Regions from separate parts of the Homo sapiens genome. Here region 2 is linked to region 1. A link means that fine-mapping ties the variant in region 1 to the expression of a gene that starts in the linked region. Tissue or cell type: whole blood. Region 1 holds a variant in brackets; the other region holds the start of a gene. All regions are shown on one strand. Distances are between the middles of the regions.

Region 1 (8,332 bases):
TCTCGAATTCCTGGGGTCAAGTGATCCTTCTGCCTTGACCTCCTGAAGTGCTGGGATTACAGGCATGAGCCACCATGCCCTGCAAAAAATTATTATTTTTGTTTTTATTTTATTTTATTTCATTTTATTTTTGAGACGAAATCTTGCTCTGTCGCCCAGGACAGAGTGCAGTGGCACAATATTGGCTTACTGCAACCTCTGCCTCCTGAGTTCAAGTGATTCTCCTGCCTCAGCCTCCCCAGTAGCTGGGAGTACAGGCACTCACCATCATGCCTGGCTAATTTTTTTATTTTTAGTAGAGACAGGTTTCATCATGTTGGCTAGGCTGGTCTCAAACTCCTGACCTCAAGTGATCCTCCCGCCTCGGCCTCCCAAAGTGCTGGGATTACAGGCGTGAGCCACTGCGCCCAGCCACCTGGCCTTTTTTTATTTTTAAGAGATAGGGTCTTGCTTTGTCACCCAGGCTAGAGTGCAGTGGTGTGATCATAGCTTACTGTAGCCTTGAACTCCTGGGCTCAAGTGATCCCCCTGCCTCAGTCTTCTGAGTAGCTGGGACTACTGTGTGCCACCACACCAGGCTAATTCTAAAAATTTTCTGTAGAGGCTGGGTGCAGTGGCTCACACCTGTAATCCCAGCACTTTGGGAGGCCGAGGTGGGTGGATCACTTGAGGCCAGGAGTTTGAGACCAGACTGGCCAATGTGGCGAAACCCCATCTCTACTAAAAATACAAAAGTTAGCTGGGCATGGTGGTTCACATCTGTGATCCTACCTACTCGGGAGGCTGAGGCATGAGAATTGCTTGAACCCAGGAGGCAGAGGTAGCAGTGAGCTGAGATCGTGCCACTGCACTCCAGCCTGGGCAATAGAGCGAGACTCTTTCTCATAAAAAAAAAAAAGAAAGAAAAATTTTTGTAGAGACTGGGTCTCGCTATGTTGCCTGGGTTGGTCTTGGACTCCTGACCTCAATCAGTCCTCCCGCCTTGGCCTCCCAAAGTGCTGGGATTACAGGCATGAGCCACTGTGCCCTGCTGAAAATTATTTCTTGTTTTGAATTGAAATCTAATTGAGACTTCTCATTAATTTAATTTTTGTTTTTATTTATTTATATTTGAGACGGAGTCCCACTCTGTCACCCAGGCTGGAGTGCAGTGGCACGATATCGGCTCACTGCAACCTCCACCTCCTGGGTTCAAGTGATTCTTCTGCCTTGGCCTCCTGAGTAGCTGGGATTACAGGTGTGTGCCACTACGCCTGGCTAATTTTTATATTTTTAGTAGAGATGGGGTTTCACCATGTTGGCCAAGCTGGTCTGGAACTCCTGACCTCAGGTGATCCTCCCACCTCAGCCTCCCAAAGTGCTGGGATTACAGGCGTGAGGCACTGTGCCCGGCCTAATTTTAGACCAGTACCCCGGAACTATACAGAATAAATGTAATACATCTTCCACATGCAAACTCATGAACCTTTGAAGACAGTCTTCCTATGTGTAAGACATATTTGCAGTTTATCCTAATACCTAAACTTGCTTTCAGTTCAGATCATTCTGCACAGAAACAATTTCTACTTCTCCCTACTTTGTAAATGCAGTCTGACAAATCTGTGCTTCACTTAGGATTATTTAGTTACAAGGTGAGTATGCTTTCCTTTCCTCCTTGAAGAATGAATTGATGGTGAGCTAAGTCTTTACAATTGTCTGTGAGTTTGGAGGGTTTGCAGTCTCCTACTCTTGTAATCATTAGGAGGTCAGGCTGCTGCCCTGCTGCATACGCCATCAGAGCTCACAAAATGGCTGGAAGTTTATCCGGGCACTTGACAAACTGCATTTACTTCATCAGGCCACTAGGTGATGAACAACTCACAAACCCAGACTGCCAGGGACTGTGGTGTACAGGGCAGTTTCTGTTTATACTTGGAAAGGCCATTCGAAGTCATCTGGTCCAAACTCATTAAAAGGTTTTTGTTGGGGAGGGGAAACATGTTTTTTATATAGTTTGTCTTTCCTGGCTTTGTTACAGTTAAATGTTAATTGCCTGGGACATTTCCTTTTTTTTTTTTTTTTTTTTTTTTTGATACGGAGTCTCACTCTGTCACCCAGGCTGGAGTGCAATGGCACAATCTCGGCTCACTGCAGCCTCCGCCTCCCGGGTTCAAGCGATTCTCCTGCCTCAGCCTCCTACAGGCGTGCGCCACTGTGCCCAGCTAATTTTTGTATTTTATTTTTTTAGTAGAGACAGGATTTTGCACTGTTAGGCTGGTCTCGACCTACTGACCTCATGATCGCCCGCCTTGACCTCCCAAAGTGGTGGGATTACAGGCGTGAGCCACCACTTCCAGCCAAGTAGGACATTTCTTTGAGTGATTTTCTTAGAAGGGGGGCATGAGTGGTACTTTCAAAGTCTTTTTATGTCCAATTTCTTTTTAACCTTCGTGTATGAATGATATTGTGGTTAGGTTTAGAATTCTTGGAATACTAGTCCTAGTCTCGACAAAGTCTAAGTAGCTTTCCAGTGTTTTGAGTTTCTGGTGATACAGATGAGAAGTCCAATGGGATTTTTTTTCCTTGTAAGTAATAATCTGTTCTCTTGTTCTGGAAGTTTGTGAATTTTTATTTATGCTTAGAGTTTCCTGTGGTATGCTTCTGGTATGTCTTTTTTTTTTTTTTTTTTTTTTTTGAGATGGAGTCTTGCTCATGTTACCCAGTCTGGAGTGCAATGGCACGATCCCAGCTCACTGCAACTTCTGCCTCCTGGGTTCAAGCGATTCTTCTGCTTCAGCCTCCCGAGTAGCTGGGATTACAGATGCGTGCCACCACGCCTGGCTCATTTTTGTATTTTTAGTAGAGATGAGGTTTCGCCGTGTTGGCCAGGCTGAGGTGTATGCCTTTTAAAAATAACACTTGTTGGCACTTGATGAGCCTTTTAGACTTAAAAACTTAAAGTCTTTTTTCTGTTCAAGGTTGTTTTATTGCTTCCCTTTCTTTTTTTTTCCAACCTCCTTACTTTATAGAACTCAGAAAGGTGAAGTGACTTGTCCAAGCTCATATAGCTAGTTACAGATGAACCTCAAGCAAATAACCTGACTCCTTTGATGAACTAGACTTTTGTGTATTGAATATTGCTCCATTGAGAGGGCCATTATGAACAACTTAGAAACTTTTTAGTGAGACAGGAATTTTGCCAAGCCTTTGTGGGGAGATGAAGAAGGAAGAAGAGATAAAATTCATTATTTGTGGCCCATTTGAAGGGCTAAAGAATTCGCAAGTTCCCTGGTATCTCAGTTATTGAGCTACCCCGAAGCTCTAAAATGTAATAAAACCAGGAAGTTGCTTGAGCACTTGGAGAATTAGATTTTTAGTAGTCAGGAGTTGGATAAATGTGGTCATGCCCTATTGTAAATATCAAAAACATATAAATGGCATCCGAAGGCTTGGAGACAGACATCATAAACCATGTCTTATCAGTGGTCTGGTTTCTGTTTTGAGTTCCAACCTGGGATGCTTCTGTGGGAACCACCTGTTCCTGGCTCTGTTGATCTTTGGATTTCCCCAGCCCTTCAGTCCCTTTCAGTTTTGAAATGAAACCTACCCCAGAGGGCGAGGTCAGGTTACGAAGAGGACTTTGACAGCTCACCTTGGGTTGTTTTTTTCCCCCAGAGCTGTCT[A/G]GTGTGTGACTGTGTGAGGTGTGAGGCTCAGCAGGCTGTGATACAGATTAATTGATGGTGAATCAGCTGTTGGGTAAGGCCTGGGCTGTGTCATTTTTTGGGTAACCAGGAAAACATGACCAAATACATTGTCTTTCATCTATAGAAAGTTGAAACTTAAGGGTACAATCACCAGAAAGCTGCCCATGATCTCTGCCTTTGGTTTACTGACGAAGGAAAGGCTTTTTTTTTTTTTTTTTTTTTTTGAGACAAGAGTTTTGCTCTTGTTGCCCAGGCTGGAGTGCAATGGCACAATCTCTGCTCACTGCAACCTCCGCCTCCTGGGTTCAAGTGATTCTCCTGCCTCAACCTCCTGAGTAGCTGGGATTATAGGCATGTGCCACCACGACTGGCTAATTTTGTTATTTTTTTTTTTTTTTTAGTAGAGACGCGTTTTCTCCATGTTGGTCAGGCTGGTCTCGAACTCCCGACCTGAGTCAGGTGATCCGCCCGCCTTGGCCTCCCAAAGTGTTGGGATTACAGGCATGAGCCACTGTGCCTGGCTGAAGGAAAGGCTTTAACTTGCCTTCATCTTTCCTCATTTGTAGATCTTCCTTACCTCCTTTCTATTCACATCTCTAGCTTCCTGCTGCTGCTCTAGCTACTAAACCTTTACATAATGTGCCTTTTGGAATTGGTGCTTTGGAAGTGACTCCTCTAGATACCCCTAGAAACCCCCGTTCTCCAGCCAGACTCACAGAATGCAGCTTGCCGCCTCCTTTTTCTGTAAACCTGGTTTCCATAAGATTGCAGCACTTCATTTGGAATCTTTACAAGTGAAACTAGCTCTTTCTTCAACCCACTCCTTACCACTTCACCCCTGACTTTGCCTGACTGTACTTCAGCCCCATTCCTCAGCACTCCAGAGCTGCCTCCAAATGGCCAGATACTTTCAGATACCTTTTGCTCTTTGAAATTTCTGCTGGCCAGGAGGCCAGCAAGGCCACTTGATCACTGTCCTTGAAGCTGGCATCTATACCCATTTCCCCTGTGTGTGTTGCGATTTTGGTGTCTGATCTCTCCTCCTGGGGCTATAGCCCAGGCTCAGAGATTGGTGACCAGGGCTTGCCTGGAGCCAAGGATTTGGGATAGAGTGTGGACTTAGGGGGCTTGGTGTTAACATTTCAGAGGTAGACAGATGAGAAGCCAGAATACGTGAACCTCAAGGCCAGTGGAGGATGGGAAGGACAGAGAGAATTTAGTATCTGAAGCAAAAGATGACCTTTGTAAGCTTCTCCTCCTGCCCAATCTTTTTGAAAAATTATTTAATTTACAGAGAATATAATAAATGATATTTTTAAAATACCAAAACATTGTAGATCATATTTTGGCTATTCCTGTCTCCCCATTTCAGTTATTTCTGTATTCACTAGAGGTAATGTATTGGTGATTTGGAATGTACCTGCCATACTTCTTCCTGTGTGTTTATTTACACATGTATGAACCCAGAAAAAATTTAAAGTATTATTTTTTGTTTTATTTAATTCTCTATACAAGTGATATAACATCTTATGTATCATTCTGGTATTTTCTTCTATGATTTAATAACATGCTTTGACAGTATTCCATGTTAGTACAAACAGGCATATCTCATTCTTTTTGGTGCTGGATAGTATTTCATAGAATGGATATGCTGTATTTTATTTGGCTATTTTTCTATGAAGACATTAAGGTATTTCCAGTTTTTGGGTGATCTCAACCTCTTTGGCAGCTTCAGTTACCATCTACACGTGGATGATTCCCAAATCTCCAGCCCAGATCTCTAGACCAGATTATCCAATTGCTTACAACCCCACTGGGATGTCTTGCAGCCCCCTGCTTTTTCTCACTTGCTCCTTCTCCAGTGCCCAATCATATACATTATAGACAGTATGCAGCGGCTAAAGCCCCAAACCCAGTAATGATTAATCATTCCTTCCTTCCCTTCCCACGTCTGACAACCAGTCACTAGGACTTGTCCTCCCTACCTCCTCAGTATTTCTTGAATCTAATCATTTTCCCTCTCCATTGCTACTGCCCTGTACGTTAGTTTTTAAATTTATAAAAGAGTACTTCTGAGGATTAAGTGAATTAATATATATAAGATGCTTAGAATAATAGATTGGTACCTACTAATTGCTATGTGAATCTTAGTTGTTATTATCATCATCTTAGTTTATATAATCCATTATCATCACTGCTTCCAGTCTTAATTTTATTCACCCCTACCTCCATTCCAGTCTCCACACTACAGCCAGAGTGATCTTCATAAAATGGAAGAATGGGCCAGGCGTGGTGGCTCATGCCTGTAATCCCAGCAATTTGGGAGGCCGAGGTGGGAGGATCGCTTGAGCCCAGGAGTTCAAGGCAACATAGTGAGACCATGTCTCTACAAAAAATAACAAATTAGCCAAGTGTGGTGCTGGTGAACATCTGTGGTCCCAGATACTTGGGAGGCTGAAGTGGGAGGATCATTTGAGCTTGGGAGGTTGAAGCTGCAACGAACTGTAATGATGCCACTGCACTCCAGCCTTGGTGACAGAGGGAGACCTTGTCTCAAAAAAAAAATAAAGTAAAATGTAAGAATGATTGCTTAAATGATAATTCTCCTGCTTAAAAAGATGTCAGTGAGGCCAGGCGCAGTGGCTCATGCCTATAATCCCAGCACTTTAGGAGGGAGGCCAAGGCAGGTGGATCATCTGAGGTCAGGAGTTCGAGACCAGCCTGGCCAACATGGTGAAACCCCATCTCTACTAAAAATACAAAAATTAGCTGGGCGTGGTGGCAGGCACCTGTAATCCCAGCTACTCGGGAGGCTGAGGTAGGAGAATCACTTGAACCTGGGAGGTGGAGGTTGCAGTGAGCTGAGATTGCGCCATTGTACTCCAGCCTGGGCAACAAGAGCGAAACTCCATCTCAAAAAAAAAAAATGATGTTAGTGATGTTTCCATTGAACTGCTTTGTGTTTTGGAGACAGAGTCTCTGTCTCCTGGGCTTGAGTGCAATAGCATGATTTCGGCTCATGCAACCTCTGCCTCCCAGTTTCAAGCGATTGTCCTGCCTCAGCCTCCCAAAGTGCTGGGATTATGGGTGTGCACCACCATGCCCAGCTAATTTTTGTTATTTTTAGTAGAGATGGGGTTTCACCATGTTGGTTAGGCTGGTCTCGACCTCCTGGCCTCAAGTGATCTTCCCACCTCAGCCTCCTGAAATTCTGAGAGTACAGGCGTGAGCCACTGCACCCAGCCTCCATTGAGCTTTTAATGACTTCATTTTATTGAGATACCTGATTTTTCTTTTCTTTCCTTCCTTCCTTTTCTTTTTCTTTCTTTTTTTTTTTTTTTTTTTTTTTTTGAGTCAAAAGCCTCGTTCTGTCACCCAGGCTGTAGTGCAGTGGTGTGATCATAACTGACTGTACCGCTCTGGGCTCAAGGGATCTTCCTGCCTCAGCCTCCCCAGTAGCTGGGACTAAAGGCATGCGCCACCACACCTGGCTAATTTTTAAAAAAATTTTTTGTAGAAACGAGGTCTCACAGCTGGTCTCTGTGCCACTGCACCCTGCCCCTGCTTTTAAATGCTATCTCTTCAGACAGGTCTTCCCTTGACTATCTAATGATTCTAAAGTATCTACCCATATGCTTTTATTAACATCACCTGATTTTAATTCTGTGATCGCACTTATCAATATATTATAATTTTCTGGTTTATTTACATATTTGTTTATAGTCTTCTCCAATTAAAAGAGAACAGGAATATTGTCTTTTTTTTTTTTTTTTTTTTTTTGAGATGGTGTCTTGCACTGTTACCCAGGCTGGAGTGTAGTAGCGCCATCTCGGCTCATTGCAAGCTCCGCCTCCTGGGTTCATGCCATTCTTCTGCCTCAGCCTCCTGAGTAGCTGGGACTACAGGCGCTAATTTTTTGTACTTTTAGTAGAGACGGGATTTCACCGTGTTAGCCAGGATGATCTCGATCTCCTGACCTCATGATCCACCCGCCTCAACCTCCCAAAGTGCTGGGATTACAGGCATGAGCCACCCACCGCACCTGGCCTTTTTTTTGTTTTGTTTTGTTTTGTTTTGAGATGGAGTCTGGCTCTGTTGCCCAGGCTGGAGTGCAGTGGTTCGATCTCGGCTTACTGCAATGTCTGTCTCCTGGGTTCAAGCGATTCTTGTGCCTCAGCCTCCTCAGTAGCTGGGATTAGAGACGTGTGCCACCATGCCTGGCTTAAGTTTTGTATTTTTAGTAGGAACAAGGTTTCACCATGTTAGCCAGGCTGGTCTTGAGCTCCTGACCTCAAACGTTCCGCCTGCCTTGGCCTCCCAAAGTGCTGGGATTACAGGTGTGAGCCACTGTGCCTGGCTGATATTGTTTGTTTTATTCATTGTTGTATTCCTAGCACCTAGGACAATGTCTGACACATTATTGACAATACTTGTGAAGTGAATAGTAAAACAACTTTCTTTGTCCTATTAGGCCCTTTTGGCCTCTCCAGCATCATCTGCATCAGTCACCTATCTTGACCTTCCCATCCTCCAGCTCATGACATCTCTTTAGATGTGCTTTCTTGCTGCAAGGCCTTTGCGTGTGCTCTTCATTGTGCCTAGAACACCCTTCCTCCCATGCTCTGCCACTGCCTGGATATCTCCTATTC
Region 2 (8,332 bases), 18 kb before region 1:
GCCCAGATTTTGTGGCCAACCCTCAGCCCCCAGAAATGGGCCTTTTGGCTTTTTATAATCGAGTACACTGAAATTTACTGTGTTCTAAGCACTGTTCTGTTTTATATACATGCTTTCATTTTATTTTCACAAGCCCAGAAGGTGTTAATTTTAACATCTTCATTTATAGAGATTAATTTGTCCAAAGCCATGAATAGGAGGCAGAACTCAAATTTGAAAGCAAGTCTAACTCCAGAATTTGGGCTCCTTTCAGTGACTGCTTGCCTAACCCTGCGTGACCACATAATAAGCCTCAACGAATATTTACTGTGGATAATACTCCCCTCCCACAGGAACTTCTCTTTGCCATGAGTGATCTCCCATAGTGCCTGGGGTTTGAACTACCCACTTTGGCACCTACTGGTCTATTGTCTGATACTATTGTTTCTTCTTTCCCTCATCTCAGGCTCTATTTTCTCATACTATTGTTTCTAATGTTGCCTTTGCCTAGCAGTTTTCCTTCTCTCATCAGGTCAGGGATAGTCCTATTGGCTGACGTGGGCGTGAGGGTGCTACGGCCTTCACAGCGGGATCTTCCTCCTCCACTGAAGACAATCAGTGGCATTCAAATCTAAGACTCCTTTGGGGTGTTTGTTAAAAATACAGCTGATTAGTTTTGGGGTGGGACAGAGGAATCTGCATCTTTAACACTCAGATCATTCTTAGGTTATAGTCAGTGCATCAGTCTACATTCCCGCCTTGTGAAGACTGACCCATTTAGGCAGGATTATTTCCTGGTATAGGGATTCTCTAAACATTGCACACAGCTGAAGAATTGGAAACTGGGCCTCTTTTGTTTCTGGATACACCACTTGGCAGGTGTAATAACATCCTCTGACAGGCTGCTTGCCACAGGTGCATGCTTGACACGTGCGTCTCGTTGGTACCGTCCCCTCCCCCCTTCCCACCCCTGCTGCCCAACCAAGACCCCTCTAGTCCCACCACCACCCGGCAGCTGTTGCCCTCCTCCAAGCCCCCAATCCTCCCCGGCCCACTGCCCTCCCTTCCTTTCCTTTCCCTGCCCCCACACCCCTTCCCCAGGCTCCTCCCACCCCAGAATATTTTTTTGTTCCTAAGTTTATCCTGTGAGGTGGGGGTGGGGGAACTGGTTAGATGGAGAGGACGCTCTGCCATTTAGAGGTCCTACTGAGTGGGCACACCTTTTCCCCTCGAGAAAACCTTGTTTCTACCAGAGAAATGGGCAGAGGCCTCTCTCTGGAACTTGAACCTCTCTGTCCCTGGAAACATCCCAAAGCAGGCCCAGCCTGCCATGTTCCTTTGTTGGGGCACAGAGGGAATGGAATCTTACCGATAAGGTGAGAAGAGCTTGAGAGAATACCAAGGACGGGCCCACCCTTCTCCCTCCTCCCTCCAAACACCTCAGGCTAAAAGGGGAGGGAAAAAAAAGGCACCAACAAAGAGTTTAAGACAGCAATTCCCAGCTTTTTCAAATATGAAGCATTTTTTAACCAATCCGTTTTTTAATTCTTAAATTCTTGACATTACAGAACTAAACTGAAATTTATTAACATTCCACTCTTACATTTCTTATCGACAAACAGAAATAAAATTCATGAGCCAAAAAACCCAAAACAAAACTAAAAACAGGGAAAAGCTTATAAAACTAAATATGGATCCCAGCATTAACAGCTGAACAGAGAATGTGATTTTTAAATTCTTAGCGGATGATAAAGTTGTGTAGAAACTGAACACTTACAAATTATTTAAAACCTGGAATCACTGACCAGAAATTACACAGTTGGATCATGGGAGAACAGCAGAAAGGGGTTATTGAGGGAACCTACACTGTTCTAGCTGCACCCCATGCCCTTCTCAGAGGAAAGCCTGGCATTGATTAGATACTGGGCCAGACTAATACTGGCAGCAGAGCCAGTGATAGTAACCTGCCTACCAGAGGAGCCTTCCACTGGGTTGGCAATTTTGATCTGGGCCCCGGACATCTGGCGGATCTCATTAATGTTGGCGCCTTGGCGCCCGATTATGCAGCCAATTAAGTTATTTGGAATGGTGAGTTCATGGGTGGTTTGAGTAGATGCATCCAAACTTGCCCAATAGCCTTTCACCTCTGGAGAGCTGGAGTCAATTCCGGCGAATCCGGTCCCGCCGTGCATCATGGCAAAGTGAGACTGTTGTCTTGCCACCTGGTTCAGCTTGGCCAGATCGAGCGGAGAAATGGTGTGTTGTCCTTGAATCGAGTAGGCATCTAGAGGTGGTCCCTCCAGGTCATGGGTGGCATGGGGGTAGCCCGCAGCGTCGCTGCACCGATCTTGGCCGCCCGCGCAGATGACTGGGGAGCTGGCCGGCATGGGCTGGTACGGAATGGTCATGACTCTCCCTTGCGGAGACTGGGAGAGCGTCTCCAGCATGACCAGGCAAATCTGCTTGACACACTCGGTGACAGACTGCGGCACGCCAGCGATGGTGATGGCCCGCTCGGTGGAGTTGGGCAGCATATCCCCCGCCACCTGGACCTGCGCCCCCGTACTCTCGCGGATCTCTTTGATCTTACACCCGCCTTTCCCAATCAGGGAGCCGCACTGGGTGGCCGGCACCACCAGCCTCAGGGTGACCGGGGGCCTGCTGGCCGCGGTACTGTTGGTCATGGAGCTGTTGATATCTTCCTCCAGCTTGTCGATGATCATAGCGAAAGCCTTAAAGATGGCATTGGTGGGGCCGGTCAGAGTGATGATTCTCTCCGGACAATTCCCCTCCGAGATGTTGATCCGCGCGCCACTCTCCTCGCGGATCCTCTTAACCGACTCCCCTTTCTTCCCAATGATGCTTCCTACTTCCTTTCCGTGCATAAGAAGCCGAATGGTGAGAGTCACATTTAGTCCACTTTCAGTCACACCGGCATCCATGGCGAGCGGCGGGCGGCGTTCGGGGGAGTTGGGCTCGTTACGTGGTCAAGTCTTTGGCGGCTGGCGGGGGGAGGGGAGGTGTAGGCCCAAAACTGCCGGCGCGAGGCGAGCGAGGGCCGCGGGAGCGAGCGGGAGCGGGCGGGAGGCCGCAGCGTAGTCGCAGGGGCGGGCGGCGGCGGCGGAGGGGGCGAGCGGGGCCGGGAGCGGCGGGCGGGCGGGTGGGCGAGGGCGCGGCGGTGGCGACTCCGGCGGCAGCCTCGGCGGTCTGGGCGGGGCGGGAAGCCCGCTTTCAACCCCGCGTACCCTCTGACCCCGGAAGTGCTTGCTGCGCAGGACCCCTTGAAAAAAAATGAGGACCCGTCTTTTTTAGGTCACAAGATTGCGCCAACCCTTACATGGTCCTTAAAAAAAAAACCTTCTGACACTGCAGTAGTGAAAATGAAGCGCACGATGGGCGGAAGCTGTGAGTCCGGCAAAGTTTTAAAATGATGACGTATTTTATTAACTCTAACGGCACTGGCGGGTGACTGAAAATACTAGTGCTGTGTATGCGGGATAGACATTATTTTCCTGCCCTACATGAGGGGCTCGTGCGCGGAACGACATGGGCAGCCCCGGCGGAAACTGCAGGCACAAGCCGGGACGCCGCGGGTTTAAAACATGCGCGTGAGGTGACCAGAGCGCGTGCGCGAGGGTGTGGGGGGATGGGAGGGGCAGCAGCCCTCTTCCGGGGGGGAGGGGCGGCGAGGCGAGGCCTGCGGAGCGGGTGCGCGCGGGCGGGCACGTGGGGCCCTTTCGTCCCCGGCGTCCGGGCGCCCTGCATGGATCCCCCACCCCAGCTCCTGCTCCCCGGCGGCGGCCGGTGGGCAGAAAGACCGAAACCCACTCACGGCCGCCTGCCGAATCGCGGCTCTGCTGTTTGTGGGGCGTGCTAGAAACGTGGTCCTAAAAAGAATGGCGTCCATTTACATAATGCTTTGTTTGCGTTTCGCAAGTTTCTTTCGGTTAAAGCCACAGAAACCCCACCTCCTGCCCTTGTGTCGTTTCCACCGCGGCACCCTTTTCCGACATTAGAAACAATAGTGTACGCCTGTGGAGGCCTCGTTTGTTCAGGGGCTGCCGGCCAGGGCTTCAGGACGTTTCTGCGGCTTTCCCCGCGCGGCCTGGGCTCCCGCGGCTGCTTTTCGGGCCCATGGGCGCAGCCACTGCGCCAGGCTCAAGGGGGGCGGCCCCGTCAGGGCCCGCCATCTTGGAAGGCCTTTTTTGCCGGTTCTTCCCGCTGAGGAAGTGTCGCTCAAGACGCTGGCCTATGAGTTGTGATTTCTGCCTTTTCCCCTTCCTCCTTGGGCTAAGCCAGACCAGAAAGGGCCCCGTGCGCAACGTGCTTCACAATCTCTCAGGGAAAGCGGCTAACGTGGCGCTACTCCGCCTCCCCTGTTCCTTACCCTTGGGGCGGCCGCCATGTTTCCTGAACACAAAATGGCGACACGTGGTTAGCATTCGTCGCCAACGAGAAATTGGGGTCGGCCCGAAAGCTCTAGAATGCACCCCTCTTCCTCCCCGGGGCCTTCCACCTCCGCGAGTTTTATGACTTAAAAAAGCCCACAGGCTGGTCTGAAGGTCGGAGGCCTAATTTTAACGCGTTTTCCTCCCTTTAATTTGAAACGGGAACGCGAATGACTGTAAAATGTGGGCACAATATTTAATCTCTCGCCTTTTTAAAGCTTAATAGTGGATAATAGGGGGGCAGTATCAAGGGATAATTTGGGTCCCCACAGTACCAAAGCATTTAGAAACCTCTGTTTAATTTAAGGAATGAGATAAGTTACTGCTTTTCTAGACTTCCTAGCATGGGCTGTTGTGCTGGAGAGAACGAGAGCTACGAAGAGACTACAGTGCCTCTGACTTTTTCATAGGACAGTTGGCCGGTGAATCTTATTAATAGTTTACCACAATTAAGTGTTCATTTTTAGTCTAGAAGGGACAGGCGTTTATTGTGCATTGGCCAGTGCCAGCACATCCGATGCAAGGCAGTTCACCGTATTCTATCTTTAATTTTTACCATGGTCCTCTGAGGTAGGTGTTCTTATCTCTCTCTCTCTCTCTCTCTTTTAAACAGAGGAAGACAAACATAAAGATGAAGTGCTTAATTCAAGGTCACACAATGTCGGGGATGGACCTCCAGATTTCCTTACTGGTGAGCACATTTTCCAGGTTTTTCTGTAAATCAGGGTTTTGGAATTTAAATACTATTTAAAACGTTTAGGTGAGCTTGTCATTTAAATGAGCCCTTCAGGTAATCTTTTGTTGTGCAGTCAGCCCCTTTTTGTATCAGGCAGCTCCCAGCTTTTCCTGATAAGAGCTACACCTGTAACGGGCGGGCGGGCTGAAATGCTGTCTTATGCAGTGTCTGGTGAGGATAGGGAGGGGGAAGTGATTCAGCCTGCCCAGAGGCTCAGGTGTCTGTCGGTCTGGCCCTGTCTGTGGCACATTTGAGCCTACCTGCCTCTGGGGGAGCAAATGGTTTTTTGTATGACTGACTTGCTTCCGTCAGCTCCCCATGGGCTTGACTCTTGCCTCCCCCACCCCAGCACCCCAACCAGGTAAAAATAAATTCGCTCTGGCACCAAGCCTCCATTTCTCTGCAGAGATTGACAGAGCATGACAGAGTGTTAGGTCAGTCTGTGGACTCTTCAGTTCAATGCAACACGTAGCTAGTGGGCCAAGCAACAAACTGGTGCCTGAGCAGGGCTCTGATTGTGTGTGGATATGAGAGACAAAGAGAAGGGCTTTTTGCCTTTAACTTATGTTACTATCAGATATATTTTCCAAAGTGGTTTCATGTTAGTTTATATAACTCTACGAACATTTAATAGGTACATAACAGCAACGATGACAGTTACAGCACTAGGTGCTTACTGTGTGCTGGGCATTGTTCTAAGCCTTATTTTATGTATTCAGTGTCTCACATTTTTAAAAAAACCACTAAGAAACAAATTTTACATTATGATTTAAGACATTTATGCACACATATGTAACAAAATTTTTGCAAAACAATATTTGTTACTACATGCAGTATATGTACTTGGGTAATTTCTATTCTTTATATATAAAAAGGACACATTATAAAGTGATTAAAAACCCATTAATAAGTTGTGACCGCTTATACACATTTAATCCTCACAAAACCTCCTGAAATGGGTGGTGATATTAGGTCAGTTTTACAGAGGTACAGATTAGTGAAGGAATTTATCCAAGGTCACACAGCTATTAAGTGGTAAAGCAAGGATTTGAATTTAGGCAATCTGAGTCCAGAGACTCCATTCTTAACCACTAAACTGGATGTGGTCTCTGCAGAGAGTCCTGTCTCATAGGGAGACAGAATAGATGAGGGAATTAAAAATATTACCAAGTGTTAGAAACTCAGGTGACAACAAAAGGACTAAATTGCATATAATCAAGGAATGTTCAAACAAAGCCTTCTTCTGGTCTTTTAAATCTAACTTATTTCTTTTCTCTAGAGAAAATTTTATCTGTCAGGTCTTTCTTTCCAAGACTACCTACTGAAATATTTCCATAATTTCCTGTTATGTACTCCTGGGACTTAGTGCACCTCCTCAGTGAAGCCTTCCCTTTCCCAGCTTCCCCAGCTCTTAGCCTCCCTCCTTCCCCGAGAGTCTTAACAGTTTCTCCCTTCGGTAGCCCACGTTTGGACGTTGGTTAAATTGTAATGTGTCTTGGGGTTGGTAACATGTCATACAGACACCTTGGGTGATGCTGTGGTCTGGCAAAGAGGTCATTGGACCTTGGAATCTGAGGCTCTGGGCCCTAGTCCTAGCTCTGCCCCTGTCTAGCTCTGAGACTTCTACAACTCATCTGTCAGGGTTTCAGTTCTCCCTTTTATAAAGCAAGAGATTAAATGATCTCTAAGGGTCCTTCTACTTATGTCCAGGGACTGATGATATTTGATGACTTTGGTTATTTTTCTTTGGCGGGGTGGGAGGTTTATGTAAATGTTTTCTGCACTTTTGGTAAAATCTCCACTCCCTTCCTCAGACCTGCATTATCTTGTGGATACCTGAGTGAATTCCACACCACCCATTTTATAGATGAAACCACTGAGACATGGAGCAATTGACTGAGTAGTCACTGCCCCACCCCTGCCTGGAGCCTCACACATGACTCGCCTCCTCTCAGTGACCACAGGTTGGTTGAGGGGTTTAACAAGGCTAAGAAGGTGAGTCAGGTTTAGACTTTGGAAGTTGAACCACAGGATTTATGCTACATACAGAGGAATGATTGTTGCTTCCTCTTATGTTAAGTTGGTATGTCACGTAAAACCTTTCAGAGTGCTTTCACGTTACTTGTTTAATCATCACAGACAACTTTGCCAGTAGGGTCTTATGCCCATTTTACAGAAGAGCCATTTTTGGATTAGAGGAGTGAAGTGACTTGCCCAACGTTACACAGCCTGTTAGAATTTGAGCTGAACCTCTTGACTCTTAGTTATGGATTACACCTTTCCATGGCTTCTGATGCTTTTGATATGGACTTTGATGTGTGGGATAGCTTTACCTTAAACTCAAAAGGCTTTCTAGCCAGTTACTATTTTTCTGTCCCCAAACAGCCAATGCATTTACCTTAAGTTCCTAACTCTTGTTTTAGAAAATCTCTTCCCTCTTTTCCCTGATGTTTACATTTATGGGTTTGGAAGGGGTGGGAAGGATTCCTCAATAAGACTCTTATGTTCTCTGGGGGCAGGGACCACATTTATTTTCTGTAACCTACCTGGTTCAGCAAGCATACTATGGTTGTTTAATTTTTTTATTTTTAATTTTTATTTATTTTTTGAGAGAAGGTCTTGCTCTGTCACCCATGCTGGAGTGTAGTGGCTCCATCGTAGCTCACTGCCACCTCTATCCCCCAGGCTCAAGCAATCCTCCCACCTCAGCCTCCTCAGTAACTGGGACTGCAGGTGTGTGCCCACCATGCCGGCTGATTTTTAAGTTAAATTAATTTATGTATTTATTTTTGAGACAGAGTTTCGCGCTTGTTGCCCAGGATGGAGTGCAGTGGCGCGATCCTGGCTCACCACAACCACTGCCTCCCAGGTTCAAGCGATTCTCCTGCCTCAGCCTCTTGAGTAGCTGGGATTACAGGCATGTGCCGCCACACCCGGCTGATTGTGTATTTTTAGTAGAGACGGAGTTTCTCCATGTTGGTCAGGCTGGCCTCGAACTCCTGACCTCAGGTGATCTGCCTGCCCCGGCCTCCCAAAGTTCTGGGATTATAGGTGTGAGCCACCGCACCCGGCCTAATTTTTTTGTTTTTATTTTTAGTAGAGATGAGGTCTTGCTGTGTTGCTCAGGTTGGTTTTGAATTCCTGAGCTCAAGTGATTCTTCTGCCTCAG

The links.
Region 2: PCBP1-AS1 starts here. The variant in region 1 is fine-mapped to the expression of PCBP1-AS1 in whole blood (TOPMed, PIP above 0.99).

The regions. Positions count from the first base shown.
Region 1 is chr2:70,064,522-70,072,853 of GRCh38, reverse strand. The region is part of intron 4 of PCBP1-AS1 (PCBP1 antisense RNA 1); the gene reads left to right. It also overlaps a transcript of ASPRV1 not described here. Among named protein-coding and RNA genes, the nearest start is that of PCBP1-AS1, 18 kb to the left of the region's middle. RefSeq lists enhancers at 1,696-1,765, 1,703-1,997, 3,444-3,523. The variant A/G (reference allele first, on the strand shown) is at 3,663.
Region 2 is chr2:70,082,333-70,090,664 of GRCh38, reverse strand. PCBP1-AS1 (PCBP1 antisense RNA 1) reads left to right here and starts at 3,650. Exons shown (of 11, transcript NR_033872.1): 1 at 3,650-3,687; 2 at 5,041-5,118; 3 at 6,978-7,127. PCBP1 (poly(rC) binding protein 1) reads right to left here and starts at 3,188. Exons shown (of 1, transcript NM_006196.4): 1 at 1,462-3,188. The coding sequence starts at 2,921. The coding sequence ends at 1,851. It also overlaps a transcript of ASPRV1 not described here. RefSeq lists silencers at 846-935, 1,026-1,075, 3,102-3,161, 3,612-3,761 and enhancers at 1,884-2,050, 2,122-2,766, 3,972-4,181, 4,222-4,311, 4,452-4,591.